4 separate regions of the Homo sapiens genome follow, and regions 1, 2 and 3 are each reported to be linked to region 4. Evidence: microRNA targets listed by miRTarBase, many of them from high-throughput screens and not tested one by one. Region 4 holds a microRNA gene; each other region holds the end of a gene's coding sequence.

The links. The annotated mature microRNA hsa-miR-2276-5p reads GCCCUCUGUCACCUUGCAGACG and lies in region 4 at 3,370-3,391, shown strand. An mRNA with a match to its seed (bases 2 to 7 or 8) in the 3' UTR can be bound and repressed. Matches are read on the target gene's strand: a 7mer-m8 pairs with bases 2 to 8, a 7mer-A1 pairs with bases 2 to 7 and ends in A, and an 8mer does both.
Region 1: miRTarBase lists GALNT10 as a target of hsa-miR-2276-5p. Seed matches in the 3' UTR shown: 7mer-A1 at 5,468-5,474 and 7mer-A1 at 2,542-2,548.
Region 2: miRTarBase lists CCDC171 as a target of hsa-miR-2276-5p. The part of its 3' UTR that is shown has no 7-base or 8-base seed match.
Region 3: the mRNA of IL2RA is a reported target of hsa-miR-2276-5p. Seed matches in the 3' UTR shown: 7mer-A1 at 1,803-1,809.

What each region holds. Positions count from the first base shown.
Region 1 is chr5:154,415,933-154,423,095 of GRCh38, reverse strand. GALNT10 (polypeptide N-acetylgalactosaminyltransferase 10) reads right to left here. Exons shown (of 12, transcript NM_198321.4): 12 at 2,112-6,282. The coding sequence ends at 6,124. All of the region lies in intron 2 of SAP30L-AS1 (SAP30L and GALNT10 antisense RNA 1), which reads left to right. Among named protein-coding and RNA genes, the nearest start is that of SAP30L-AS1, 26 kb to the left of the region's middle.
Region 2 is chr9:15,970,740-15,977,739 of GRCh38, reverse strand. CCDC171 (coiled-coil domain containing 171) reads right to left here. Exons shown (of 26, transcript NM_173550.4): 26 at 3,703-6,131. The coding sequence ends at 5,904. Among named protein-coding and RNA genes, the nearest start is that of LINC03041, 300 kb to the left of the region's middle.
Region 3 is chr10:6,006,539-6,013,701 of GRCh38, reverse strand. It overlaps IL2RA (interleukin 2 receptor subunit alpha), which reads left to right. Exons shown (of 8, transcript NM_000417.3): 8 at 806-3,013. The coding sequence ends at 830. Among named protein-coding and RNA genes, the nearest start is that of IL2RA-AS1, 25 kb to the left of the region's middle.
Region 4 is chr13:24,159,062-24,166,224 of GRCh38, forward strand. It overlaps MIR2276 (microRNA 2276), which reads left to right and starts at 3,355; the gene lies at 3,355-3,443. SPATA13 (spermatogenesis associated 13) reads left to right here and starts at 1,659. Exons shown (of 13, transcript NM_001166271.3): 1 at 1,659-1,871. RefSeq lists a silencer at 1,550-1,609.

The DNA of each region.
Region 1 (7,163 bases), not on the chromosome of region 4:
TTTCTCGTTAGTTATTGACATATAAATTACATCCTTACACATTGTGTGCCCATCAATAGATTTATGATTATTTAATTATGCAGTTTGCTTTTAAATCAGCTAGGAGAAAAAATAAGTTTTAAAAAAAACCCTATCTATACTGTCTTCTATATTTACCTATATAGTTATTTTGACCAGTGCTTTTTATTTCTTTATGTGAATTTGAATTACTGGGTTTACCCAATGGGAGGCAGTGAGTGGCAGATGACTGGAAGGTAGAAAAGGAGGAAGGACAGGATATGTATTCCTCCCATCTCCTCTTGTTTTGGCAGTAGCTGCAATTTACTACCTGCAGCTGCAGATCCCATTGGGAAGCCCCTGTTCCTGGCTACAGCCTTCTCTGCATTATAGTAACACTACTGCTTCTTGCCTTTTCAGGCTTACAAGTAGTAACAGCTTCCCATTTCTGCTAGTCCTTAGGTGCTTCACCATCCTTTGTTGTTTCCTTAATCCCACCCATACTTCTGCAATAGTTCCTTCATTAAATTCTCTTCTGTTACTCCAGGAGTGGGCTATATCATGACAAGATCTTAGCCGACTCAGCATGCTCCATGACCTTCTTGCTAAGGTCAAGTTCTTATACTCTCACGTGTACTTCTCCTTTGCAGAGCTTACCACAGTCCCTAACTATACATTTATTTTAATGATCATTTGTTTAATGTCTATTTTTCTAACTAGATCATAAGTGCCTTGCACAGTCTTTTAATTTCTAGCACAGTGCCTGGTATATAGTAGGCATTTGATGCATTTTTACTGAATGATAGCTAATATTTTTCTCTTATCTGTTTCATGGAATTCTTCTGAGAGTCTGGGGGGTACAACAGGTATAAAAGGCTTTAAAAATTGAATCTCTCCCCATGTCTACAAAGCTGTAAGGTGTTATTGTGTGAGGATAACATGAGCATGGGCATACTGAAAACCTGGATGGACTGTGTCAGTCACCACCATGTCATCTTGGGTCAGAATTTCCCCTTTGTGTTATTCAGCCTTTGTCAAGCCATGGTCCATAGCACCCTCTGGTGGTCCCTGAGTGACAGCATGAGGGGGCAGCTTCCAGCTTCTGTTCATTGTCACCCGTAGCCCCCAACCAAGACTCAATCATAGGACCACAGGTGGAGCTGGAAGCATCATCCAAAAACTTGTCATTTTACTGTGGAAAACAGGCCTAGTTGGAAGCAGCATTTGCACAAGATCTCACTGAGTTTTTTTGTAGAGCTGGGCCAGACAGTGCTCTTCCTACCATATCTAATACCTGATAGCATGAAAATGTTTTGGTAAGCAAGTACTCATGCCTGTTGGGTAAGCATCAGAAATGAGTTACAGCTGGGTGTGGTGGCTCATGCCTGTAATTTCAGCACTTTGGGAGGCTGAGGCAGGAGGACTGTTTGAGGCCAGGAGGTCAAGAACAATCTGGGTAACATAGCAAGACTCCATCTCTACAAAAAATAAAAAAAATTAGATGGGCATGGTGGTGTGTGTCTGTGGTACCAGCTACTAGGGAGGCTGAAGTGGGAGGATCACTTGAGCCCACAAGTTGAAGGCTGCAGTAAACTATGAGTGCCACTGCACTCCAGCCTGGGTGACAGAGGGAGACCCCATCAAAAAAAAAAGTTATGCTTATTTCATATTGTCACTGCCCTCCTGAGATCCTCCGCTCCTGGGTGTGACCCTTTGTGGGCTGCCCCACGTAACTCTTCAAGCTAACCTCCTTCTGCTCCTCCAACACAGAAACTTCTACTTACCTCAGGGCCTTTGCACTAGCTGTTCCCTCTGCCTGGAACTCTGTTCCGGGAAATCATCTTGGTTCACCCTCCTTCATGTCTTTCAGCTCTCACCATTCTAGCTAACGTTGACCCCCACTCCAGTCTCTAATATATCATTGCTTTATACCCTTCATAGCCCTATTTGCATCTGAAATCATCTTAGTTGTTTTAGGTCTGCCTTTCACTCTAGAATGATGGCTGTTGGGAGTTTTTAGTACCCAGCAGAATGCCTGAGTCCGAAGTAGGTGGTCTACGTGAAGAATGATGAAAAGAAGAATGACACATGAGAAGGAAGAAGGCAGAGACCACTTTAGAGAAAGTCTGGAGGTTTACTCAACAACGTTCACAATCACAATTGTACATGGTAAATCAGTCTTTCACAAAGGCTTATTTTTCCAGGCAGGAGGAGAGGCTGGTGGTCTTGAGCTTTTGGCCTGGAATTCCAGTCTGAATTTTCAAATATTCCCTGCCTCCAACCCCTTTGGGATCCTAGTCTTCAAGCCAATAACAGAGCAGGAGTCTGACCCTGTTCTGTTGCCTGGCACGGCTGAATCAAAGCCATTCTGGAAGCAGATGTTAAGGTGAACTTGTCACTTGGTATGTAGGTCCGACTCCCATCCCAGAGGTGGCAGTGGGCCTTGGCTCAAGATCAAGTTTGAACTAAAATATTACTTGGATTTTTCACAAAGAGTGTCCGTTGAAAGCAATAAGGAATTCCAGAACAGAACTGCACTTCTTGTCCCTCTCTCACACTTACAAAGCTTCAGAAAACATTAAAAATGCATTACCTCCTAGGAATTACAAAAGATCACCCAACTGTACAAACTAGATATCGCTGAAGCAGAGACTCTGATTCCTCAGTTACTACTGTAAAGTGCTTTGCCACTCTTTTTGAGACTCCAGAGACTAGGAAAATGGAGATGCACAGAGAGACATAAGGAGCTGTTTTCCAAGACATCACCTGTTTCTTAAGGAAAAAAAGAAATTCAACTGGTGGGAAGTTTGAAAAGTGAATGTCATGTAGACTTTGGAAATCCATTTGTTACATCTTTAACAGAAACTGCTCTTTCTCTCCTGGACCGAATGTCACATCCTCTCGTCCGATTCCTCCTGTGGATGTACCCCGTTCTGCCTGAGCATTTTTTCCTAAAGGGAAGAATCAATAGTTTCTGACTGTTTTAACAGCTGAAAGCTCCAACTGGAGGCAGAAGATGGGATGGCTTTTCACACACGTGCGTGCAAGTTTAGCCACCTCCAAAGGCCTTGTTCTTAAAGCAACAGTGCTGTTTGCATTATGAAATGTCTCTGGAGTTCCCCTTTGGAAAGGCTGCTGGTGGGCCACATGGTCACGATACTTTCAAGTCACACCCTACTTTGTGACCTTATCCTCAGAGTAAAGGCTTTAGAGGAAAAGGGACCCCACAGTCTCACCCATTACCTGGCTGTCAGCATCTCCATATGCTCCTGGCTGAGTTTTATTGAGCATCAGCTGGGGATGTGAGCAGAAACCTGAATCCTTGAGACAGGTGGTTTTCAAAAAGGAAGCCATAACAATGAGTGGCTTAGTACTGGCAATTGATCAGTTGGTCCATGAAATGGAGCCAGTCAAGTTCTGTCCTTCCTTCCCCTCCCACATACTTTGTCAAGTCCCAGGACCTACTGATATGGGCTCAGCAATGACAAATGCCAGAGTGCTCAGAGGACACACCCATCCCTTTTCAGGGTGTGAACCCAGACTGGAAAGGAGAACCAAAGGATGGGAAAGGCAGGCCCGGGACGGCTTGCTGCTGCTCCTGCTTTCACAGGAATCCTGGTCATGCCAGGAACACTGCCGCCCACTTGGGGTGGGACTATGTGGAAGTCTAGCTAGTGCTCGGCACCCCTTAACCCAATGGTGAGAAACAGGACAAACATGCTGGGGGTTCAGAGGGTGGACCGCAGGGATGGCCCCCAAACAGGTCCCAGTGAGGTAATGCAAGGCCTCCTCTCGGGGGCTGATGAGGTCTTCTAGGCCACAGACTAAACGCACTGCCCAGCCTTTAGTTTGGAGTGTGACTTGCACTGACTGAAATAAATCTGACCTGTCACCCTTGGGGGACATCTCAGTCTCAGATCTTGCTCCAGACCCAACATCTCCTGCTTGAAATGAGACATTAAGAAACACACACTCATCCAGTAGGAACTGCACACACCACCAAAAACGTTCCCCTCCCCACAACCCTGCCCCTTTATGTTTGTCTAGCAAGGCACTAGGAAATGGTTCAAGTTTAGGGATTTGCTCTATATTTGCATTTTTCTTTTTAAAAGGCACAGTTTTTATTTTAACGACGCTGCATTGCTCTTTGATGATGAATCTCAATTCGACTCCTCAAACTGTCAACACTCTTGTTATCCTAGATTCTAGAAGGGGCCTCATCTTTTGACTTCTTTCTATAGAGGGCCACTTCTAAAGCTACAGCACTCATTTGGAAAAGGACACTGGGATCAACACGTAAGCGTTGCAAGCACAGGGGCCGCCTCTCTTGCAGACAGGTGGCCAAAGCAGGGCTTGTGCTGGGCCAGAAGTGGAAGTAATTCCTCGCCAGCTACACATTCAGTCTGACTGGTGGATGATTGGGAGTGTTTGTCCCTCCCTCCCCCAATAATTGATGGCCTTGAGATCTGCCAGCATCTCAAAGGCAGATTCGTGGCTCTGTTCCCAGACTTAGGTCTCAGTTATTTAATTGGTAAATGACACAATCAAGAGACTCAACACTAATTGGAATGCTGATTTCAAGTATTTCCTGGGCTAGCTGGTGGAAGCCATAGATTGTGGAATGTGATTTCCATTTCTGAATCAGTGGGTGGCAGGTTGGTTACAGAAATGCTTCCTATTAGTCTGGAGGCCCTCTAGGAGTCTGACATGTAATTAACAAAGCAAAAGGTAAACATGAAGGGCTGGCATGGAGCTGGGTGTATATCTGGCTGTGGGACGTCGGGTTCTTTTCTCCACTGCAAATGAGACTACAGTTGTGATGATGGTGGGAGGTTCCAGGGGTGCAGGTCTTCACCAAGGACCATGTTGTACCACAGCCTCTGCTGAGCTGAGGGACACATGTCCCCCTGCTTTCCCAACACCACCAACTTTGGATTTCACAGATTGTCTCTAGGCTGGGGGCTGCCTTGACTGTATTACACCTGGCTGGCTCCTTTAATCACAGCATTCTAGAAATCCATATTGGATGTGGAATACCAGAATCCTATGTAGCATCCTAGTTTGCAATCCAATTATAGAGTTCTTTAAAAATTCTGGAGTTCTGTATGAGAACTAGAACCATGATGAGGTCAGAGGCAGGCACTTTGCCCACAGTTGATCCTGGAGGCCTCCAGACTCTGTGAGGTGAGCACCTCGCAGCACCTCTGTTCCTCTTTTGAGGCCAGTAATTGCCTGGGGAAGAGAGACAGGGAAATGGAAGCATGGATCAGGGCAAATCAGCCAGCATTTCTAGTTTGGAGGTCTACCTGGCCTTTTCCGTGGGCTCAGGGCCATCTGAAACACTGCCCTGTAAAGCTGGTGCTGGGCTGTCCTTGTGCCTGGAGAGTGCTAAAATTGACATTTCAAATACCCAGAGAGCAGGGGGAGATATCCCGCATGTCCATAGCTGCAAAGAAATGTCTAGGGGGGCTCCCTCTTCTGACTCCTCACCTGGCAGCTGATCAGCATTCAATACTGAACACTCTTAGGGCCCCAAGTATGGCCTTTGACCGGACCAAATCACCTGGGGTTGTGACAGAGAACAGAAGCTGTGCAGTAACTGCAATGTTCCCCCCAGGACGGCAGAAACTAAAAAGCCCCAAGAGGACTTCTTTCTCTTCTGCTGCAGATGAGTGGCATCGATACTAAAAGCTGCCCCAAACAGGCAAATTTTACCTTTGTTTCTAAAGCACCATCATGTAGGAGAGCCATCTGAGGGCTGGGCAACCTCGCAGGACTCACTTTTGGGTGGCCTAGGCTACCTTGGTGTTCTCCCACATAATGTTCAAGGGGACATAGTGACAAAGTTGAAAAGGCTCTGTTGCTTTTCCGTGATGTCAGCAGGGATTAAAGCAGTCTCTGCTCCCTGTGGGGCCTCTTGTGGGATATGCTCTTCACCCTACCCCCACAACTCAGGGGCTCAAGGACCAGGCAGACCCCAGCCCCTGAATCAAGAGCCCTCTTCACCCTGAACCATTTGGCCAGCACCTTTTACACCTAGTGCCCACAGGGGCCCTGCCTCCCTTGAAAGAGGAAGTCTGCAGTGAGTGCCAGACCCTGGGGGGCCTGCCAAGGGGACATGAGGGCTCAGTTCCTATTGAATTTTTCCAAGACTGTTGAGTTGGTGTGTTCAAACAGCCACTGCTGGGTGAGAGAGGATGGGTTGCAGGTGTTCATGAAGATCCTATGGTCACTTTCACTGCAGTCCATGCAGCTGCCACTGACAGGGTGGTACAGGGTCTTGTCCTACAAAACATGGAGGTAATAAGCCAGACAGCACTGGAGACATGTGGCCAGTCAAACCACAGCAACAATACCAGCAATGAGAAAGTGAGGAAGTGACTGACTGACTAGCTGTTCATACACCTGTTGGTTTTCCTCCTGAGCTCACAAGCCGGATGCTGCCCAGCCTCCCTTGCAGCTGGTATTGCCGTGGGACTGGGTTCTGCCCGCTGGGATGTGGCCAGAAGTGATGCACGCAGCTTCCAGGCCTGGGACCTAGACACTGCCCACCTCCTGTCAGACCTCACTGGTCCTTATCGTGTGTGTGTGTGTGTGTGTGTGTGTGTGTGTGTGTGTATGTGCTTTCCTTTTATCTTTTATTTTTTTAATTTTTTTAATTTTTTTGAGACAGGTTCTCACTCTGTCACCCAGGCTGGAGTGTAGTGGCACAATCTTGGCTCACTGCAACCTCTGCCTCTCAGGTTCAAGTGCTTCTCCTGCCTCGGCCTCCCGAGTAGCTGGGAGTACAGGCATGAGCCACCATGTCTGGCTGATTTTTGTATAGAGACGGGGTTTCACCATGTTGGCCAGGCTAGTCTCGAACTCCTGACCTCAGGTGATCCACCCACCTCAGCCTCCCAAAGTGCTGGGATTACAGGCATGAGCCACTGTGCCCGGCTGCACTTTTCTTTTTAAATGGAATCAGTTGCCAACATTTAAGACTTGAGGATTTCACAGTGAAGTCTAGATTTCTGACTACTCTTGAATGACTACAAAATCCGGCATGGTAGGTTTGTGGCACAAATGAATAAGTGGATGGGCTCTGTTGAAAGAAGGGGTGAAGCACTGTATTGCCTTAAAAAAAAATTAAGCAGGTGCCCTGCTCCCCCCGCATCCCATCTTAC
Region 2 (7,000 bases), not on the chromosome of region 4:
AAGCCTTCCTATTTTACGTAGTTTCCTATAGCCGCACAACATTTCTGGAGCCGCTTCACTGGGAGGACTCTGTCAACAATCAGCATTTCACTGGCATTAACATGCAATAAAAGACAATGAACCATGACTCAATTAAACCACAAAAAAACTGTCTTCAGATAACATTAACCCAGTAGTTTTCAAAGCTTTATATGTTGTAGGGCTTCTGTTGCCTAACATTAAGGTCAGCGCTTTAAAAACATATGCCTAAGCATCAAACACACCTACACAGAATATGATTTAGAGGAAGGAGCAAAACTCTGTTTTGATTTATCTCCTTCCCATACTATATCCAGAGATTTTAAACTTAAGAATATGTGGTATCAATTAGGTATCACTACTGCAAAGAGTAAGAACACATTTTCCCATCGCAACGTCCATGGAAATGTAATTTGCCCACAAGATACAGTTAGGGAGACCTTTAGATTCTGATTTGTTTAAAACAATAACTAAAAAAGATTATGCAGGGGGAGGTTCAGAAAAAATATGTACGCATCCATAATATGAACTAACAGGACATCTGATATCTGGATATGTCAATCAACACATTCTACAGCCAGAAAAGTGTCTCGTAATAAAATTGCTAAGGTATAAGAAAAAAGATGGAGCTCTTCTAATATGTAAATTTACACATTTATGTCTCACTTAACCAGGAGGACTGGAGGAATGGAGGGGTTTCTTACAGAACCAGAGGCTTTATTTTTCTTTTCTTTGCTTGGCTGTACTTGCAATATTTAACGCTCTAGGTTTAAATCTTCAATATTTTAGGTTTGATCACATTTAACACTTAGTCATTTCAATTAAAATTGCTCTCCTTTCTCTCACTAAATTAAACCATCAGGAAAAATTATATGCTTTCACCAAAGTAAAGACAAAATGGATTCACATAGTACATTGTAAAAATTTTAGAAGATTTCCTTGTTGAATAAAATTATTAAAATTATCTCACTTCAATTATAACAAAAGGCAGGGAGAAATGACCAGGAAATGCTCTGGCATTTTCTTTTAAATATATTTAAATATATAATTTAATTTAAAGTATATAATTCATAAATTCCCTATCATTATTTTAAGCTGTGATTAATATAAATTCATTCAAGATTCAATTTCTTTTGTAAGAAAGCTATTAAAATATGCCAACCAAAATGGAATAAAATAAAAACAATCATTTAAAGTAGATCTTTAAGATATTTAAGGCATCTTTTTAAAACTGTAGGAATTAAAATATACATTGAAATCACAGGTTAATTGAAGAATTATCAAAAGTTATGGCAATAGAGTGTGACTCTATGCTGGCCCAATATAATCACTGTTTATTATATTTAGAAGCCATGAATATAAAATGGAAACCGAAAAGAATTTGAAAATTCAAGTTATGAAGGCAATTATTACGGATAATTTAAAAGAAAGAACATTTTCTCTGTTTGCTAATATTAAAAGATTAACATATTAATCTTTTAAAAAAATTACTAAACGTTTACTGGTGTATTAGTTTCCTTCGGTGGCTGTGACATATTGCCACAAATTACCACAAACTTGTGGCTTAAAGCAGCACAAATGTATTCTCTTACAATCCTGGAGGCTCTGAGAGGAGAATCCATTTCCTTGCCTCTTTCTGCTTCTAGCACCGCCCTGAAAGCCTTAAGTCTGGACTCTGCCTCCATCTTCACAGCACATCACTTCAACTTCGGCTTCCATCATCGTATCACCTTTTCCTCTCCATAGTCAAACTAACCCCTGCACCTCCCTCTCTTACAAAGATACCTCCTATTGCATTTAGAGCACACCCAGCTAATCCAGGATAATCTCCTGATCTCAAGATCCTTAACTTAATCACCCCTGCAAAGTCCCTTTGCCGTAGACGGTAACATTCACAGGTTTCAGTGATTAGTATTATGAACATCTCGTACGGCCATTATTCAGCCTACTACACTAGTCCAGAAAATATATTTTTAAATCTTTATCCTAGGAGTTACACAAGTGAATGCTTTATTGATCAGCTTTATTTGGCATATGTCATTATTTTCCATTGGGAAGTAATAGCATGGTCAAGCTGACTCACCATCAGTACCTCTCAACAGAGACTCTGCTTCTGAGAGTATCTGTGTGGTCTTTTGGCCAAGCTAGAGACACTGGGCAACACAGTGAGGGTGGTGTTTCCTTTGAAAGATAGACACCAACTTCACAGTTACTGTTTACATAAATAGTGCTAGTATGTATGTATTTTGTTTTGTCTAATCAATTCATAAGAAATCTAGATTTCAAACCAAAACATACTTATCAAAATTATTCCTAGCTGGTCAGGACAATTAAAAAAAATTTTTTTTTCTCTTTAAAAAGTGTTAATTATTTCTGGAAGGCAGGACTAGCAGTGTTTCAAAATAATGTGGACTTTGGAATTGCAGCTCTAGGCTTACTAATTCCTAGGTTATGTATGATCTTTGGTAGCCAAAAGCTTAACATTTTTGATCCTCAGTTATTCATGTCTAAAATGGTGATGGAAACTCCTATGCTAGAGGTTTGTTGTGAGATCATTAGTTTTGCTATAATAACTGGCATAAAACAGTTGCTTGATAAATATTAATTATCTTCCACCTTTTATATTAGAAAACTTGTCTATAAAAAGTGCACAGTGAGGGCACAGTGGTACGCATCTGTAGTCCCTGGTACTCAGGAGGCTGAGGTGGGAGGATCACTTGAGCCCAGGAGTTCAAGACCGGCCTGGGCAACGTTGTGAGAGCCCATCTCTTAAAAAAAGAATAAGTGCACAGTGAAATAGGATCAACTTCCTATTGTTCAGTATGGTCTACAGAATGAATTCAGACAACTGGTAAATGAAGTAATATGAAAATACTAATAATCTCATTAAACATTCAATAATAGCATATGTCATAAATATGAAATAGGAAATAGAGTTGCTAAGTTTAATAAGAGTCAGATATTTGGTAAATTAAAGTGATCATTCTATTTAAAAGGTTATTTATTTATGTCATTAAGTTATCACTGAACTGGCAATTTTTGCAATCCTAAACCTCTTTGTTTTTATATTATGTCATTCCAAAATACATGTATTAAAAATGTCAGCAACTCCACAATATGTAAGTGTGACTCAGGTATCAGAACAATAACTTTAAGAATTAATAGTGATAGGTGATATAGGTGTGTTTCTAGATCACAGAAAGTTAGCAGGAAAATCCACATTCGGAAGTGTAAAGTAAAACTTCCTTTCCTCTACAAAAATATTTGAAGTCATTATCCTGAGATATGTCTACTCTATACATCATTCTTAAAAAGATAAAGAAGCTGATACAGCAACTGTCCTTGCCGACACAACAGAGATCTCAAATATGCAGCAATTGGTCACTAAGGTGCTTAGAAGCAGTCTAGAGTTTCTCAGATCTCCATAGGATATGTCATTAAATCTTCTCCTCCTGCTGGGTCTGACTTCTGGGAAAAAAGCATATGGTATAAATATTACTATATTTGGTAGTGAATACTAATGATCGCTCAGGAGGTTCATCCTTCAGTTTCTATGGCCTTTAGCATCTAGTTGCTTATAAATGTGACATGCTTTGATTTGATTTAATCATAATTTACGAATTTTGAATTTGTGGTTCAGAATTCACTGTACAAAATGTACCTGTAAAGTTAGATACCCATATATATGGAGACACATACACATTTATTTTTGGAGTTATCCCATTAACAGATTATAAAATCAAGGCAAGAAGACCAAGGCCTTTCCAAGGCACATTTTACAAAGCTGCTTGTTCCTCTAAAATCAGTAGGATCTGAAAACAGATTCAACACAAGCATACACACACACAAACACTTAGACATAGAGGTTACATATAGTAACCTTGTTCTTCTCTAGTGAGAATTGTAAGCTCAGTGATATCACATGAACTAAAAAATTGTCTATCAATTTCTGTATGAACAATATCCTAATCATTGTTTGGAACAGCAGAGAAAGGTGTTCTGAAATGTGCAGAAATTATATGATCTGTATAAAAACAATAAATAGCACTTCCATGTTATAATAAATTTGCAAGTTGAATTTCATACAGGTCATGTTACACAGGTCATATTAAAAATAATTCCAAGGAAAGAATTAAGAGAAATTTGGTTAAAGATATAATTTTACTCCATATAAGCTTTCTAAAGTTTTATATAAAGCTAATTATAGTGGTTCAGTATTACAAGAATAGGATGTGTTACACAGTACGACAGTAATACTGCTGTGTTCCCTCAGATGGCATAAATCACTTGGCTAATTTGGCTACTAATAAATAGTTAGTATAAAATCTTATTTACCAAGGCCAATAAAAAAATTCTCAGCAGTTGGGTAATTTGAATCAAATGTCACTGTAAAGATAAGACAAAAAAACTTCTGTAATACATACTGTTATACTCTAATGTATCCATAATGAAAGATTCCATAATGAAAAATAATATAAAAAATAGATTATGTATCAAGACTCTTTGTCAAAAGCTATAGTTCACATCAGAAGTTAATAGCACTAGGGAGTTAAATGATTAATACAAAAACAAATTCTTACTACAAATATTCTTTTGTTCTTCACTTACCATGATGCAAACTGCAAGGATTTAACCTTTAAGGGTTAAAGAGTTTAATCAATGTCAATGTCTGATCTTCTGAAGGCGATAAAGAACAGTCTGTCTAGCGATACCCAACAGAACATCACTTTGTCAAGCCACAAAGCACCCAAAAGCTTGTCAAGTAAGTTACCAGAAACCTCTTTGTGGTTAGAACTCAGCTCCTTCCTGCTTGACCTATTATTTGATATTTGACCACTTGGTTGCAAGACACTTGCTCTTTCTAGCTGAAATGTCACTGGGGCATCTTGTCAGCTCCCCGACATCTCGGCCTGACATACAATTTTACTTTTGTGTGCTACAAGGCAGAAAATGCAGGGCAATGGCCTTGTTTTAAATTCTGTCAGCATCAAAGATGGGTGTCACTCTTGGGTCCTACCAACAACAAAAACAAAAAAGGAGTCTATTTTGAAGGTCAAAACAGCCATTACCTTGAAGTTTTTCAGCTTATACTAAATATATTACCTGCTATCCTAGTGTGGGAACTGTCCTTATGAAGTGCCTAAACATACCACAGAAATCCTCCAGCACAATTGCTCTACTTTCTTATCAAATGCAGACTTGCTAAAAGAATGAGTTTTCAGTGCCTTCAGGGACCAGATTCAGCAGTTAACTTAACTTGTTCAAATGGGCAAGTGGTATCATGTAGCTTTACAAGGAGCAACCTGACCTTCTCACATTGACCAGGAGTGACATTATTGTGCAGGAGGAGAAGCAGTCACATCATTTCTGTTTTGCACAACCTGCTTAAAGTTTGCAACTAAATGCTTGTCTTCAGTTGAGCTGACAAGAGAGAAGAGGGGGCTCAGTGAACCATGGCCGGGCTGCCATGAAATGACAGGAATCATTGGCATACATTTCAAATAGCTCTCTCAATCCTATTAAAGCATTGCAGTCCTGCTTTAAAATAGACAAGTATGAAACAACTTTGATAGATAGAGACTAAAATGGCTTATTGATTTTTTTAAGTCTGAGGGAAATTACCCAAAATGTGTCATTCCTTAACATTTAAAAATATGTTACATAAAAATGAGCAACTGTGATAACAAATAAAACTTGGAGAGAAAAAAGTTGGCTATTTCCTTATTCAAGGAGACAGAGCTACCAGAATACATCAAGATAGCGCACAAATTTTTTAAATCCACTGCCACTTCTGCTGAAACAAAAGTCAACTGATAAGAAAATTCCCATTCAAAACAATTTTAATTGTACTGTTAACTCTTCCTCCATTTTTTAATTTCATGAAGTCATAATCCAATCTGAGTTGGTCTGTTGGCATTAGCAGACATAGTCACTGGAGAGGAGTGAGATGATGTCAGAGCATGGGGCACAGTATTTATAAATGTCTCCTTTAAGAAAGTGTAAGTAGTATCAAGTTCAGCTTTCAATGGTAAGAAATCCCCAATACCAGTTGTGTCAGCAGGAAGAGGAGCTCTTGAAGGAATGGAGAGATTTGAATGGTCTCGTGATCCTATCTGTGACATACAAAAGAAAAAAATAATAAACATAGAGTTGAAAACTCTCAAATAGAGCCTAAAACCATAAACAGGCAAGTAGACTAATAATCATTATAATATAAAAATGAGATGGAAACTACTATTTCAATAATCTACATGAGAATATATAAATAGTAAATTATTTATCAAGTGTGACTGAATCCCTTATTTACTCTTTTCTGAACTTTTCTAGACAACAAGAATTTGTCTAAACACTAAATCTTTGTGTAAAACTTTTTATAAAGTTATTATATCAGAGAGTCAATACAATCAGGGATTTTTACCTTGACTTCAGTCCATTGGCAATTTACAGAAACCGATGCTAATAGCATTTATTTCATTATGCTATAAAATAAGTGCCATATAATATGGAAGATTAGATTACTTAGAAAATAAACTATGAGTATTTATGTTTTTTAAATCTATCCATTTTACTTATTTGACAAAAGTAGCACAAAGTAAAATAAGCCAATCCCAGTGACCTCTAGAAAATGGCATACTAAGATACAAAATTCTAATGAGAACTCTTTGGCTTTACTTTAATAATAATGCCACCACCCTGTTTTTTCTTTCAACTTTATTATTTTAGGTTCAGGGGTACACGTGCAGATTTGTTACATGGGTAATTCTTGATTTAAGTCACTGAGGTACGGTGTACAAATGATCCCATCAGCCAGGTGGTGAGCACAGTCCCCGACTGGTAGTTCTTCAACCCTCTCCCACTCTCATAGTCCCTGGTGCTCAGTCTCTATTGTTTCCATCTTTATGTCCATGATACCACCCTGTTTTGATAAAGACTATTATAAGTATTTAGAAATCACATGTCAAAATAAGGGAATGAAAATAAT
Region 3 (7,163 bases), not on the chromosome of region 4:
TGTGTCCGCATGGTGGAAATACCGTTTGACGGTGGCTACCGCGCATCTCTTCCCAACCGCGTGATCAGTGATGTCACATTGCCAGCTGGAAGCTGTGTGTGGAGGGAGGATTGACACCAGGGAAGACAGGCAACCGTCATCAGAGAGCTGCTTGTTAAACATCACCAGCACACCTCTGCTTGGAGTCTTGTGCTATGGGAACTCTGTGCAAAGTAGGGAGTAATTAGAAATTCCCATGAGCCAAATAAGAACTGGGAAAAGGCTAAGACCGTATTGTCCAATACAGTAGCCACTAGCCACCTGTGGATACTTAAGTGTATTTAAACTCAAATAAATTAAATACAATTAAAAATTCAGTTCCTCGGTTGCACTAGCCACATTTCAAGCGTTCCCTAGCCACAGGTGTCTGTGTTATCGGACAGCACAACTGCAAAAGATTTCCATCATCTCAGAAAGTTCTATAGCACAGTGCTGGCTAGAAACCAAGTGCTTTACTGCATGCACATCATTTAGCACAGTTAGTTGCTGTTTATTATTCCTGTTCCACAGCTATTGTCTGCCATATAAAAACTTAGGCCAGGCACAGTGGCTCACACCTGTAATCCCAGCACTTTGGAAGGCCGAGGCAGGCAGATCACAAGGTCAGGAGTTCGAGACCAGCCTGGCCAACATAGCAAAACCCCATCTCTACTAAAAATACAAAAATTAGCCAGGCATGGTGGCGTGTGCACTGGTTTAGAGTGAGGACCACATTTTTTTGGTGCCGTGTTACACATATGACCGTGACTTTGTTACACCACTACAGGAGGAAGAGTAGAAGAACAATCTAGAAAACCAAAAGAACAAGAATTTCTTGGTAAGAAGCCGGGAACAGACAACAGAAGTCATGAAGCCCAAGTGAAATCAAAGGTGCTAAATGGTCGCCCAGGAGACATCCGTTGTGCTTGCCTGCGTTTTGGAAGCTCTGAAGTCACATCACAGGACACGGGGCAGTGGCAACCTTGTCTCTATGCCAGCTCAGTCCCATCAGAGAGCGAGCGCTACCCACTTCTAAATAGCAATTTCGCCGTTGAAGAGGAAGGGCAAAACCACTAGAACTCTCCATCTTATTTTCATGTATATGTGTTCATTAAAGCATGAATGGTATGGAACTCTCTCCACCCTATATGTAGTATAAAGAAAAGTAGGTTTACATTCATCTCATTCCAACTTCCCAGTTCAGGAGTCCCAAGGAAAGCCCCAGCACTAACGTAAATACACAACACACACACTCTACCCTATACAACTGGACATTGTCTGCGTGGTTCCTTTCTCAGCCGCTTCTGACTGCTGATTCTCCCGTTCACGTTGCCTAATAAACATCCTTCAAGAACTCTGGGCTGCTACCCAGAAATCATTTTACCCTTGGCTCAATCCTCTAAGCTAACCCCCTTCTACTGAGCCTTCAGTCTTGAATTTCTAAAAAACAGAGGCCATGGCAGAATAATCTTTGGGTAACTTCAAAACGGGGCAGCCAAACCCATGAGGCAATGTCAGGAACAGAAGGATGAATGAGGTCCCAGGCAGAGAATCATACTTAGCAAAGTTTTACCTGTGCGTTACTAATTGGCCTCTTTAAGAGTTAGTTTCTTTGGGATTGCTATGAATGATACCCTGAATTTGGCCTGCACTAATTTGATGTTTACAGGTGGACACACAAGGTGCAAATCAATGCGTACGTTTCCTGAGAAGTGTCTAAAAACACCAAAAAGGGATCCGTACATTCAATGTTTATGCAAGGAAGGAAAGAAAGAAGGAAGTGAAGAGGGAGAAGGGATGGAGGTCACACTGGTAGAACGTAACCACGGAAAAGAGCGCATCAGGCCTGGCACGGTGGCTCAGGCCTATAACCCCAGCTCCCTAGGAGACCAAGGCGGGAGCATCTCTTGAGGCCAGGAGTTTGAGACCAGCCTGGGCAGCATAGCAAGACACATCCCTACAAAAAATTAGAAATTGGCTGGATGTGGTGGCATACGCCTGTAGTCCTAGCCACTCAGGAGGCTGAGGCAGGAGGATTGCTTGAGCCCAGGAGTTCGAGGCTGCAGTCAGTCATGATGGCACCACTGCACTCCAGCCTGGGCAACAGAGCAAGATCCTGTCTTTAAGGAAAAAAAGACAAGATGAGCATACCAGCAGTCCTTGAACATTATCAAAAAGTTCAGCATATTAGAATCACCGGGAGGCCTTGTTAAAAGAGTTCGCTGGGCCCATCTTCAGAGTCTCTGAGTTGTTGGTCTGGAATAGAGCCAAATGTTTTGTGTGTCTAACAATTCCCAGGTGCTGTTGCTGCTGCTACTATTCCAGGAACACACTTTGAGAACCATTGTGTTATTGCTCTGCACGCCCACCCACTCTCAACTCCCACGAAAAAAATCAACTTCCAGAGCTAAGATTTCGGTGGAAGTCCTGGTTCCATATCTGGTGCAAGATCTCCCCTCACGAATCAGTTGAGTCAACATTCTAGCTCAACAACATCACACGATTAACATTAACGAAAATTATTCATTTGGGAAACTATCAGCCAGTTTTCACTTCTGAAGGGGCAGGAGAGTGTTATGAGAAATCACGGCAGTTTTCAGCAGGGTCCAGATTCAGATTAAATAACTATTTTCTGTCATTTCTGTGACCAACCACATACAAACAGACTCATCTGTGCACTCTCCCCCTCCCCCTTCAGGTATATGTTTTCTGAGTAAAGTTGAAAAGAATCTCAGACCAGAAAATATAGATATATATTTAAATCTTACTTGAGTAGAACTGATTACGACTTTTGGGTGTTGAGGGGTCTATAAGATCAAAACTTTTCCATGATAATACTAAGATGTTATCGACCATTTATCTGTCCTTCTCTCAAAAGTGTATGGTGGAATTTTCCAGAAGCTATGTGATACGTGATGATGTCATCACTCTGCTGTTAACATATAATAAATTTATTGCTATTGTTTATAAAAGAATAAATGATATTTTTTAAAAAGTCTTGGTTTTTATTATAAATATGATAAATATTGCTAGCTATAATCTACATAACCAAAAACCTTTATAGTTTTTTGGTGCTTTTTTTTTGTTTTTTTGTTTTTTTTTTTTTTGAGATGGAGTGTTGCTCCGTTGCCCAGGCTGGAGTGCAGTGCACAATCTCGGCTCACTGCAGCTTCTGCCTGCTGGGTTCAAGTGATTCTCTTGCCTCAGCCTCCCAAGTAGCTGGGACTACAGGCACCCACCACCAAGTCCAGCTAATTTTTGTATTTTTAGCAGAGACGGGGTTTCACCATGTTGGCCAGGCTGGTCTCGAACTCCTCACCTCAAGTGATCCACCCAACTCAGCCTCCCAAAGTGGTGGGATTACAGGCGTGAGCCACGGCACCCAGCCTGGTATCCTCTATAGTTTTTAATAGTTTTAAATAACATGCAAAGATCCTGTGAAATGGCCAACAAGCACATCAACATCACTGGTCATTTCAGAAATGCGAATCAAAACCACAATGAGATACTACTTCATACCCATTAAGATGACTTTAAGAAAAAGAATAGGAATGCTCACAGATGGCTGGTAGGAATGTCAAAATGTGCAGCCACTGTGCAAAACAGAGTCTGTTTTGGCAGTTCCTCAAAAAGCTAAACATAAATTTGTCCTATAACCCAGCAATTGTATTCCTAGGTACACACCCAAGAAAGACAAAAACGTGTCTAAATACAAACTTGTACACGACTCTTTATAACAGCATTATTCATACTCACCAAGAGGTAGAAACACCCAAATACCCAACAACAAAGGGATGGATAAAGGCCGGGCATGGTGGCTCATGCCTGTAATCCCAGCACTTTGGGATGCCAAGGTGGGCAGATCATTTGAGGCCAGGAGTTGGAGACCAGCCTGGCCAACATGGTGAAACCTCATCTCCACTGTCTCTACTAAAAATACAAAAAATTAGCTGGTCATAGTGGCGCGCATCTATAATCCCAGCTGCGTGGGAGGCTGAGGCACGAGAATCCCTTGAACCTGGGAGGCAGAGGTTGCAGTGAGCCAAGATGGTGCCACTGCACTCCAGCCTGGGCGACAGAGGGACTCTTCTCTCCAAAAAAAAAAAAAAAAAAGAATTGATAAGCAAATCATGGCATATCCCTGCCAGTGGAGTATTAGCCACAGGAAGGGATGAAGTATTGATCCATGCTGCCATTTAGATGAACCTCAAAAACATTATGCTGAGTGAAGGAAGCCAGACACAAAAGATCACTACTGTATGACTCATTTAACATGAAATATCTAGAATAGGCAATTCCATGGAGACAGAAAGCAGATAAGTGTTTGCCAGGGGATTTTTCTGGGGTGGTAAAAAAGTTTTGAAACTAGAGGGAGGAGGTAGTTGCACAACATGTTGAATACACGAACAGCCACTGGATTGTATACTTTATCATGGTTAATTGTGTGTTATGTGAATTTCGCCTCAACTTTTTAAAAAGGAGATCCTGAGGCCAAAATATTTAAATATTGCTTATCTTATTCTTGATGCTCAAAGAAGGGTCATCAGCCCAGAAGGATCCTCCTGAAGTCTTTATGGTGACTTTAGTATTCTACTAAGTGAGTTATCAGGGGACCCTGAATTTTTGTTTTCAAAAACCAAAATTAGCATATTACTAAAGTTTATGGAAGACTCCACTTTGGTATTCTATCGAGAACGTAAAATTTGCATAGCTCCCAGGAAGGCTGCTGTTCCTGATGCATCACCAGAACTATCGTGAGTTGGTTTCAGTTTTTACTCGCTGGTATTCCTTCAGCTAAATGATGAATTCCTGCCAGTGATTTTCATGGAGGGGTTGTGTTGGCTGGCTCCCAACGTGCATAATCAATTAATTTGCTGTGGGTTGAAAATCTGAACAAACTGAAAGTCAATAACTCTTCTTAGGTCTGTAGAAGTAAGTAAGATTACAGGGTAGCTCACTGTCCCCAATATTGGAGAGGCAGACAGGCTGATACAGGGAAATCATAACCTCCTGGACCAGAAACCCAGGAACAAACCCTGCTACTGGAACCAGCAGAGGGGCAGGAAAACCTAAACTGGAACTGACAAATTGCTGGAGGCTCAGTGTGGACACTTCTGAGAGATAAAAATTTCAGGGGAGCAACCCAGTCACAGGGGGTCCCCACTTTCATGACCTTTCCCTCCAGGAACTCAATGAGGTCTTCACAGTGAAGATGGGAGAAAAACTTCCTTGTGCTTTTGACGGGGGAAAGAGAAAAGGTACTGTCACACGCATCCGTGTGAAGAGAGTCCACCAACAGGCTTTGTGTGAGCAACAAGGCTGTTTATTTCACCTAGGTGCGGGCGGGCTGAGTCCGAAAAAGGATTCAGCAAAGGGTGGTGGGATTATCATTAGTTCTTATAGATTTGGGATAGGCATACAAAGTACATTCACAAGGGTGGGGAGAATATTACAAAGTACCTTCTTAAGGTCAGGGGAGAACATATCGTATCAGTTAGGGTGGGGCAGGAACAAATCACAATGGTGGAATGTCATCAGTTAAGGCTATTTTCACTTCTTTTGTGGATCTTCAGTTGCTTCAGGCCATCTGGATGTATACGTGCAGGTCACAGGGGATATGATGGCTTAACTTGGGCTCAGAGGCCTGACAGGTACCATTCTGAAATATGCCAGAGCATTCAGTACTTGTCCAACAAGGCCTGCCCTCAAGAAACAGTATTTTCCTCACTATCTTAAATTTTACCATAGTCTAACCAACCTAAATTTTACCAGTGTCTAACCAACCTGAAAGAAGGGAAATAACCAGCTCTAGCCTCTCTGCCCTTCTTGTCTCATCTAAGGGAGGAGGCGAATGAAAAGCACTTGTGAAGGTCACAGCCCAGGGGTACAGGCTTGCTGAAGGCTGAACCTAATCATAAGACTATGGAATGGTTCCCCTCCCCCTGCACCTTACCACCACATCAGTGGGGCTGTTGTGCGCTCACAGGGGACTACAGTGGAAACAACTGCACATTTCAGTCCCTCTTTAAGAAGCAGTCTCTAGGGAAGCCCAAAGATGAGAGGGGAGACAAAAACAAAGACACTAGAGGGAATTTTAGCCTCTGACATCTACAGCTACAGCAAATAGCAAACACAGCCTAACTCCTAACCAGGTAAACATAAAGGCTCACACTAAAGGCCTATTTACCTTGGTTCCTTTTATGCTGTATATCAGGTCCAGCTTTCAACAAAAAATTACAAGGCATGCTAAATGGCAAAAAAACACAGATTAAAGAGGCAAAGCAAGCATTGTAACCAGACTCGGATACTACCATGTTGGAATTATCAGACTGGGAATTTAAAACAACTACACAAATAAGCCATTATGACAGAGATTTCTATGGTCCTGTAGATCCATTCTTCCCTTCCACCATCAGTAATAAAATCCCCAAATTTTAACCCAACACATTTCTGCCCCTAGCTAAAGACAACACTTTCTAGCCTCCCTTGCAGCTAAGTGTGGTCATGTGACTAAATTTGGATGAGATGTAAACCAAAAAGTATCTGAGACAGGTCTAAATCCATTCAGAGGTTTATATTGCCAAGATTAAAGACCATGACCTGTGATACAGCATCAGGAGTTCCTGAGAACATGTGACCAAGGTGGTTGAGTTACAGCTGGGTTTGATATTAATGCATTTTAAGGAGACAGAAATTATAGGCGAAGACATAAAGCAATACATGTAAGGTATACATTGGTTCAGCCTAGAGAGGTGGGACATGTCAAAGTGGGAGGCTTCCAGGTCATAGTTGATTCAAAAGTTTTCCGATTGGCAATTGGTTGAAAGAGTTAAGCTTTGCCTGAGGAGTTGAAGTCAGTAAAAAGAAATGCTTGAGTTAAGATAAGGGGAGTGGGGTTGTGGAAGACACTGTCCTTGTCATGTACACGAAGCTTCCAGATAGCAGGCTTCAGAGAGAATAGAGAGCACATATATCTTATTGGAACTTAACAGACGTCAGACTCTCTGGAAAAGACCCATTAAGAGAAGGGAGATTCCTCCAGTATGAAAATTAAGAGACAGCTTTGCAGGGCCACTTCAAAATATGTCAAAAAATATTTTGGGGTAAAATAATTTTATTTCCTTCTTGGCCTGTTATATGTCATG
Region 4 (7,163 bases):
AAAATCTGCTCCTCAGATTTGTGCTAATTCTAAAGAGATAATAAAAAAACCCTCAATTTAGACCGTGATATTTTTTTTTAAATAATACTAACATAGATTTCATTTTAGCATTTGTGAGTGCTTTGTGCAGATTTTTTATAGAGTAGAAATAAAATGGAACAGTCAATGATATTAGCCTCACATACTATGTTTCTAAAATTTTCCAAGGTTTGGTTTTTATATTTTTTCAGCTTTAAAAATACATGGTCATTGTTAAAACTTGGGGTAATTTCAATAACAATTCAAAGAATTAAATAAAATTTGCCCATATTTCCACCACCCACAGATAATTATCATTAATCTTGGAGTGTGCTTTAATTAATAGACTATTTTTAGAGCAGTTTTAGGTTTAGAAAACAGGAATGGAAAGTACACGGAGTTCTGATGTACTCCCTCACGCCCCTCCCTCCACACACAGCTGCTTGTACTGACATCTTACATTCGAGTGGCACATGTGTTATGATTGATGGGCCCATGTTGTTACATTAAGATGAACTAAGTCCATTACTTACAGGAGGCTCACGCCGCATGCTGTTCATTCTGTGAGTTTTGAGAAATGCATAATGACATGAAGCCACCATTATAATGTCATACAGAGTTTTTTCAATATTTTAAAAAACATACATAAAATTAATTTTCACTTTTCATTGGGTAATATAATTTTTGTTTTTTATTTTACAGATTGTGGGTATTGTTCTTTGATTATAAAAGACAATAGACATTTATAAATAATAGTGCTGGCCACTAAATGAATCATCTAAAAAACTACACTGGTAGAAAGCATGCATTTATTTTATGAATTCCATTAGCTGCCTATCAGGGAACATGGAGCACTGGGGCACAGATCCCAGCACAGAAGGGTTTGCTTCTCTTCTGTGGTTTTCATGTCAATTAATGATTAGGCCTTGAGCCTCACAAGAAAGGTGATAGGCCTTTGAGTCGGTTTACTGCAACAGTCTACTCAAGACTTGCCCCAGGCCCTGGGAAACATGTAGGTTTAAAAATCCCTACCCTGCGTTTTCCTTTCACAGGGAGTGAACTTCTGGCCCAGGCAGTGGGCAGTGGGGCACGGTTGCCCCGGAGATGAGACTCCTCTTCCCGCCCTGGGGGGTGGGGGCTGGCTGGTGGCTGAGGGAACTATTTTTGTTTGTTTCTTTTTTTAAAAAACGGAGTCTGGCTGTGTCCTCCAGGTTGGAGTGCAGTGGCGCGATCTCGGCACACTGCAACCTCCGCCTCTCGGGTTCAAGTGATTCTCCTGCCTTAGCCTCCTGAGTAGCTGGGATCACAGGCGCCTGTCACCACGCCCGGTTAATTTTTATTTTTATTAGAGACGGGGTTTCACCATGTTGGCCAAGCTGCTCTCAAATTCCTGACCTCAGGTGATCCGCCCACCTCGGCCTCCAAAAGTGCTAGGATTACAGGCAAGAGCCACTGCGCCTGGCCGGGGAACTGTTTTTGATGGGTGGGGTCCCCGGCTGTGGTTGGTAGTGTGGGGGCGTGGCCGAGGGTGTGGCCTGAGGGAGTGAGCTAACCGGGGGCGTGGCCTGATATGGGGCGGGGGGAAGAGCCGGGCTGGGGGCGTGGCCTGGTGGGGAGCGGGGCTGGGGCGTGGCTTGGCTGAGTGTGCTGCCGCGGCGCGGGAGGAGAGTGTGCGTTGCGCTTTCTCCCGCGATCGCCCTGCCGGTCGCTAGCTCCGAGGGCGCGCACTGGATCCCAGGCTCCTCCGAGAGTGCGGCGACCTCGGGGCTCCGCCGGCACCGGAGGTGGCTCTGAGGGCAGGGACGTGTTGGACACGCTGACTTTGTAGGCTCCGCCAAGAGGCGCCGCAGGAGGTAAGACGGCTTCGGGCGCGCGGCTCTGCCGGGCGGGCGCGGGCATGGGCTGTTAGGTAGAATATCGGGAGGATTTGAGTCCCAGTGGACTGCCTCGGGGCTTCGGGATGTCCAGCTCCCAGCTGCTTGGCCTCTGCTTCCCCCGCCGGTGGAGGCTACCGGGTGCTCACCTGTTAGGTCCGTGCGCCCGCTCCCTGCCCGGCGGTGGCTCTGCGCCCTCTGGGCCACCCGGCACCATCGCTTTTGGGAGGACATGCACGTGGTGTTCTCGCAAAAGGCCGTTTCCAGCCGGAAGCCTGCAGGGAGGTCGCCTTGTAACTTCACCCGCGCTCCCAGCTCGCGGGGCCTGGCCTACAGGGGCGGCCGTGGGGGTGGCAGAGTCTGGGGAGCCTGGCGCGGCGGAGCCCTGTAACGCTCTGCTCCATCGGGTGGCGTGGCTGGTGCCTCCGGGGACCCGGAGCGATGCGGTTGGAGAGCTTAGTTTAGAAAGCAAGTTTCTCTTGGTACCAGCGGAGTCTCGTCCCAGGGGAAAGATTTTGGGACCCGGTGCCCATCGTCTGTGGACTGCAGGGAATGCATTGGCGGAGTTGGTTTGGTCCCATTCTGTGCAGGAGGTGGGGGAATTGGTACTCCAGCCCCAGGCAGGTAGAAGCCCGCGCTGCTGCCAGCGTCAGGGGGAGCTCGGGTGACTTGGGCTGGGCCACCCATCTGACTGCAAGGTTACAGAGCTTGAGCAAATTTCCCCTCCCTCCAAGTGCAGGAAAACCAAACCAAAGCAAGCAAACAAAACCCTGTGGGTCATTTGCTTCCCAGCATTGCATAGGGATGTGGATAAATAGAATAATACTGTGAATTTATTCAGCTCTTGTTCCCATGGCTTCCCATAGCCTTATATTATGCACCTCCCCCTGCCAGCATTTTCTCTGTCCCCACCTTCGGTTTTTGCTGCCTCGTGTTTTCTTCTCTGTGAACCTTTCCTGGTCACCCAGCGATTTGCTCTCCTTTATTCCCCTTGCTAACAGGCGGAGAAATCTCACTCCTTTTCTTTTTCCACCTTTCCCAACAAATTCTCCTTTTTTCCTAATGTCCCCCTCCCCCGTCTTGCAAACTTCCTCACTGCATTATTCTCGGGGTGCCTGTCATGCACCCTCCCTGTTCTCTGCCCTCCTCCCGCACTTTAGAGTTTCATGTGGCTTTGTCTTATTATCCCATATCCTAATTCTCATCTACCTCCCTTGGCCCCCACGTTTGCCATCTGCCTCCACCCAGTTCTCCCATCTCCTTCCTTATTTGTGCTCCCGTGCATATGCAGGTTTCTTCCTTGTTTCCCCATGTTTCTCCCACAGGTGCTTTCTTCCCTTTGCCCTACTTCTCCCTGGCAGGCGCTCTGCCCAGCCACAGCCTGCCCCGCCTGGAGGGCACACCTTGCCTCAGTGCCTTCTGCTGCGGTTTTCCATGCTCCATCAGCATCCCTGGGTTCCTTGTGTTCTTCCAGTCCGCCCTCTGTCACCTTGCAGACGGCTTTCTCTCCGAATGTCTGCAAGTGTCAGAGGCGAGGAGTGGCAGCTGCATCTCTGCAGGAGGACTCTGGATTTCAGGACCCTCCCTTCTGCCACTGCTTCTGACTGATTGTTTTCTTATTGAAGTCGTATCCTCTACATAGTTCTAGAATTAATGTCAATATTGATGTTAGGTAGCATCTACCAAACTCTGGGTGTGTGCCAAGCACTGTTCTGAGGGCTTAACGTGCATCAGTACTCATTTAAAATCCTCCACACATCCCTATAATGTAGGATCTACTACTGTCCCCATTTGACAGATGAGAAAAGGAAGGCTCAGAGGAGGTAACCGGCATGGCTTCTTGCCACTGCCTAGCAGTGGAGGCCCTCTTCTCACCAGACAGTGGAGCTTCCCTGCTGGGTGACCTCTTGAACTCAGGCATGCCTGGAGTTTAGCTTTGGAAAGGAGGTTGTTATATGACATGTTTTATTTAGTCTGCAATGTACACCAGTGGAGGACATGAATTCTATACCTGTAGGACAGTGCATGGAGAAAAACCTAATGCCGGCTGTCCCTCAGAAAGCCTGGGGCCAGTGCCTGGGCTGTCACCTCATCCATGCTATCAGTCTACTTTCCCTCTTAGCCACAGGAAGCCCTGAAGAAAGTGGCATAAAAATGACCTGGCTGGGCACAGTGGCTCATGCCTGTAATCCCAGCACTTTGGGAGGCCGAGGTAGGAGGATTGCTTGAGCCCAGGAGTTCAAGACCAGCTTAGGCAGCATAGCAAGACCCCATCTCTAAAAAATAAAAATAAGAAATCAGCTGGTTGTGATGGCGCACTCACCTGTAGTCCAAGGTGCTCAGGAGGCTGAGGTGAGAGGATCTCTTGAGCCTGGGAGGTTGAGACTGCAGTGAGCTATGATTTTGCCACTACACTGCAGCCTGGGTGACAGAACGAGAGACTCTGTCTCTAAAAAAATTAAGTTAAATTAAAAAAGAAGACTACTGCCAGCTGTCTCCTCCCGTGCATTGAGAGTTCCGTTTCACTTTAGCTGGACAGATCTTTATGGTCTCTGTTAGCTGTGTGACTGTATGAGTCTTATTTATATCCATTTCATTATGTAATCTTAAAGCCTTGTCCAAACATTTCTTTTTTAGTCTTTATCTTCCTAAGAGTTGGAGGCAAGTAGTATTTCTACTTTACAGATACTGAAGCAGAGCATGCACCTTGATAGCTGAAAGGGACTTTATATTCTACAGATGAGGAAACCGTGGTCCAGGGAAATAAAATGGCATATTCAAGGGAAAGCAGCAGGACAAAGTTGGCTCTAAGGCTTCTCTGGTTCAGGGCTCAATGCCTGGCCCTATAGCTTGGTAGGTTGACCTCTCTGTTTGCTGCTGGAAGCAACAAAGTTTCTTTCCCCTTCCTTTCCCTTGAGCTAAGAGGCATTGGAAGGTTTCACTTAGAAGGGGAACTCATCAGTGCTTTCCTTTCTTTTTTGTCTGAAAACTAAACATTTAAGAAATGTTTGCCTATGAGACATGTAATAGCATAAATGGGATCATAACATCACAGTGGTATAAATTCAAATGTTTTAGAAAGAACTATCATTGTTATTTCTAAAACACCAGGAATGAACACCAAATGTACATGGTTTTCTTGAGGGAAACTATATAATACATGGCAATTTGAAAATCAGTACCTGGAATGTTTAATTGTATTTTACATTTGTGGAGAGAAATGCATTGGTACAAAGTGCTTACCTGATTTTCCTCATCTTTGCATCACAAATGAAAGAGCAGTAAAGGGGGAGCATAGAGTAGGTTGCTGTTTTTCTGTTGGCCTCTGCTGTACCCACATCCTTCTCTGGACTCCCACTGAGCCCCCTTGCTCCTGCCTCTGCTCCCTCCATGTTTAATGCCTCTTTTGGCTCCCCAGGGAACCTGCAGGGTATTGTTGAATTGTGATGCTCACCTCCTCCATACCAGCCTGTCTTGACAGAATGAAACCCTGATGCCCTGAGGCAGGCATCCTATGTGATGGCTTCATCACTCCCTCCTAGGATGAGATGGGTGATCAGGTACCATCCTGGGGAGAAGGGAGGAAGCATTTGCGTGAGGTATCCTCTGTGTTCTGTGGTTTAGGTGAGGATGGTTATAACTGAGGAGCAAGTCAAGTTTCATTGCTCCCTAAATGAGATGGAGGTTCAGGGAAGCTGTCGTGGCCAGAGCCCCATAGTAAGTGGCAAGACTGAGACTGGACCCCGGGCTGCCTGGCTTAGGAGATCCACCTGCATCCCTCGGTGTGTCTGTCTTCCCTCTAACCTGTAACTCCCTGAGGCAGAAACGGCACCACAGAACCTTTCACAACATCGATAGCTCCTGTGTGCTGAGCTGAAGGTGAAGCTGGAGAGGAGAGACCAGGGGACCAGGGGACAAGAGCCTGAGGGCTCAGAGGAGTTCCCAGTCCAGCCGTCGCGCTAACTTCGGGGTTGTGGACGATGCCCTCTGTGCCTGCAAGAACCCTGGGGAGCTGTGGCAACACCGCAGAATGCAAGGAGAATGGCGTCTGTGTTTCCTGTATATGTATGTGGTTGTGGCCATGTGCTGTGGTCAGGATGTCAGCTTCGGTGGACACAGGTAATGGCTGTCCTGTGGTCATCATGTTCCAGCATCTCGGAAATGGGGCTGTTGCTTCAGTGAACCAGGACCTTAAAGGACCTGACTTCTTGGTGAGCAATCACTTCCACCCATTTCCCTGAAGCGGGACTGCCCTAGTCTTTGTGGAATCACGAGAGCGCAGACATTGTCACTTGAGGGATTCTGTGCCTGCCTCAGACTGTCTCCCACCCCAGCATGCCAGGTCTGCCCTGAAGACCCACCAGCATCCATCTGCACCCTCCAAGAGGACTCTACCTGTCCAATCCAGGAGAGGGGAAGGGCCAGCCTTTCCCCTCCACCCCCATTCATACCAGAGCAGGCTTTGTTTCTTAACACTGGCAAGCTCTCCTTAGAGAGAAGTAGAGCACAGGTCCGAAATGGCCAGACTGGAGAGTTTCAATGGAGGGAGGCAAGCTGCCTTCCTGGGTTCCTGGGCCACCCAGTCTCCTGCCCTCTTCTCCTCTCTCAGCCCTTCCCGGTTGCACCCCCCACCCACCCCAACTCCAACTTTAGCAGCAGGAAAGGGGACATCTTTACTCACTGTCTGGGACAGATGCACGGGGAGGGCAGGCTTTTATTGTCTTATTCCAATGGGGGCAGGAGGCTGGCAATGAGATGTGTTGTGGTATTGCTGATCAGAACGTTGATCACATCTTTTGCAGAAAATGTTGCTCTGTGTGATAGGAACAGTCCATTGTACTTGAGTGTTAATGCGACAATTCAGTCTCATTACACAGGATTCTTAGGTCAGGCCCTAGCTCTTAGTCACCATGGGTGATGTAGAGATTGGTAAATGTGCCCTGAGTCCTAAACAACTTGCACATGTACTTTTAAACACATCCGGGTTGTGTGTTGTGACTCTATAGCTAAAAGAAAAATAGCCTCTGGTTCAGAAATGTGCTCCACTTCCACCCTTCCTGGGGGGTGGAGTGCTCTTCTGTAACGTATAAAAGTCTTTCTCATTCATCAGGAATGGCCTATTTAGGGATTTATGTGGATTTGCAGATTCTGCTATCACAAGTGTAATACCGATGATACTTCATGCTGGTTTGTAAGCATAAATGTATATGTAATACTTACTGTGTATCTTTTGTGTACTAGATGCTGAAGATGGAGAGATTGATCAGAGAC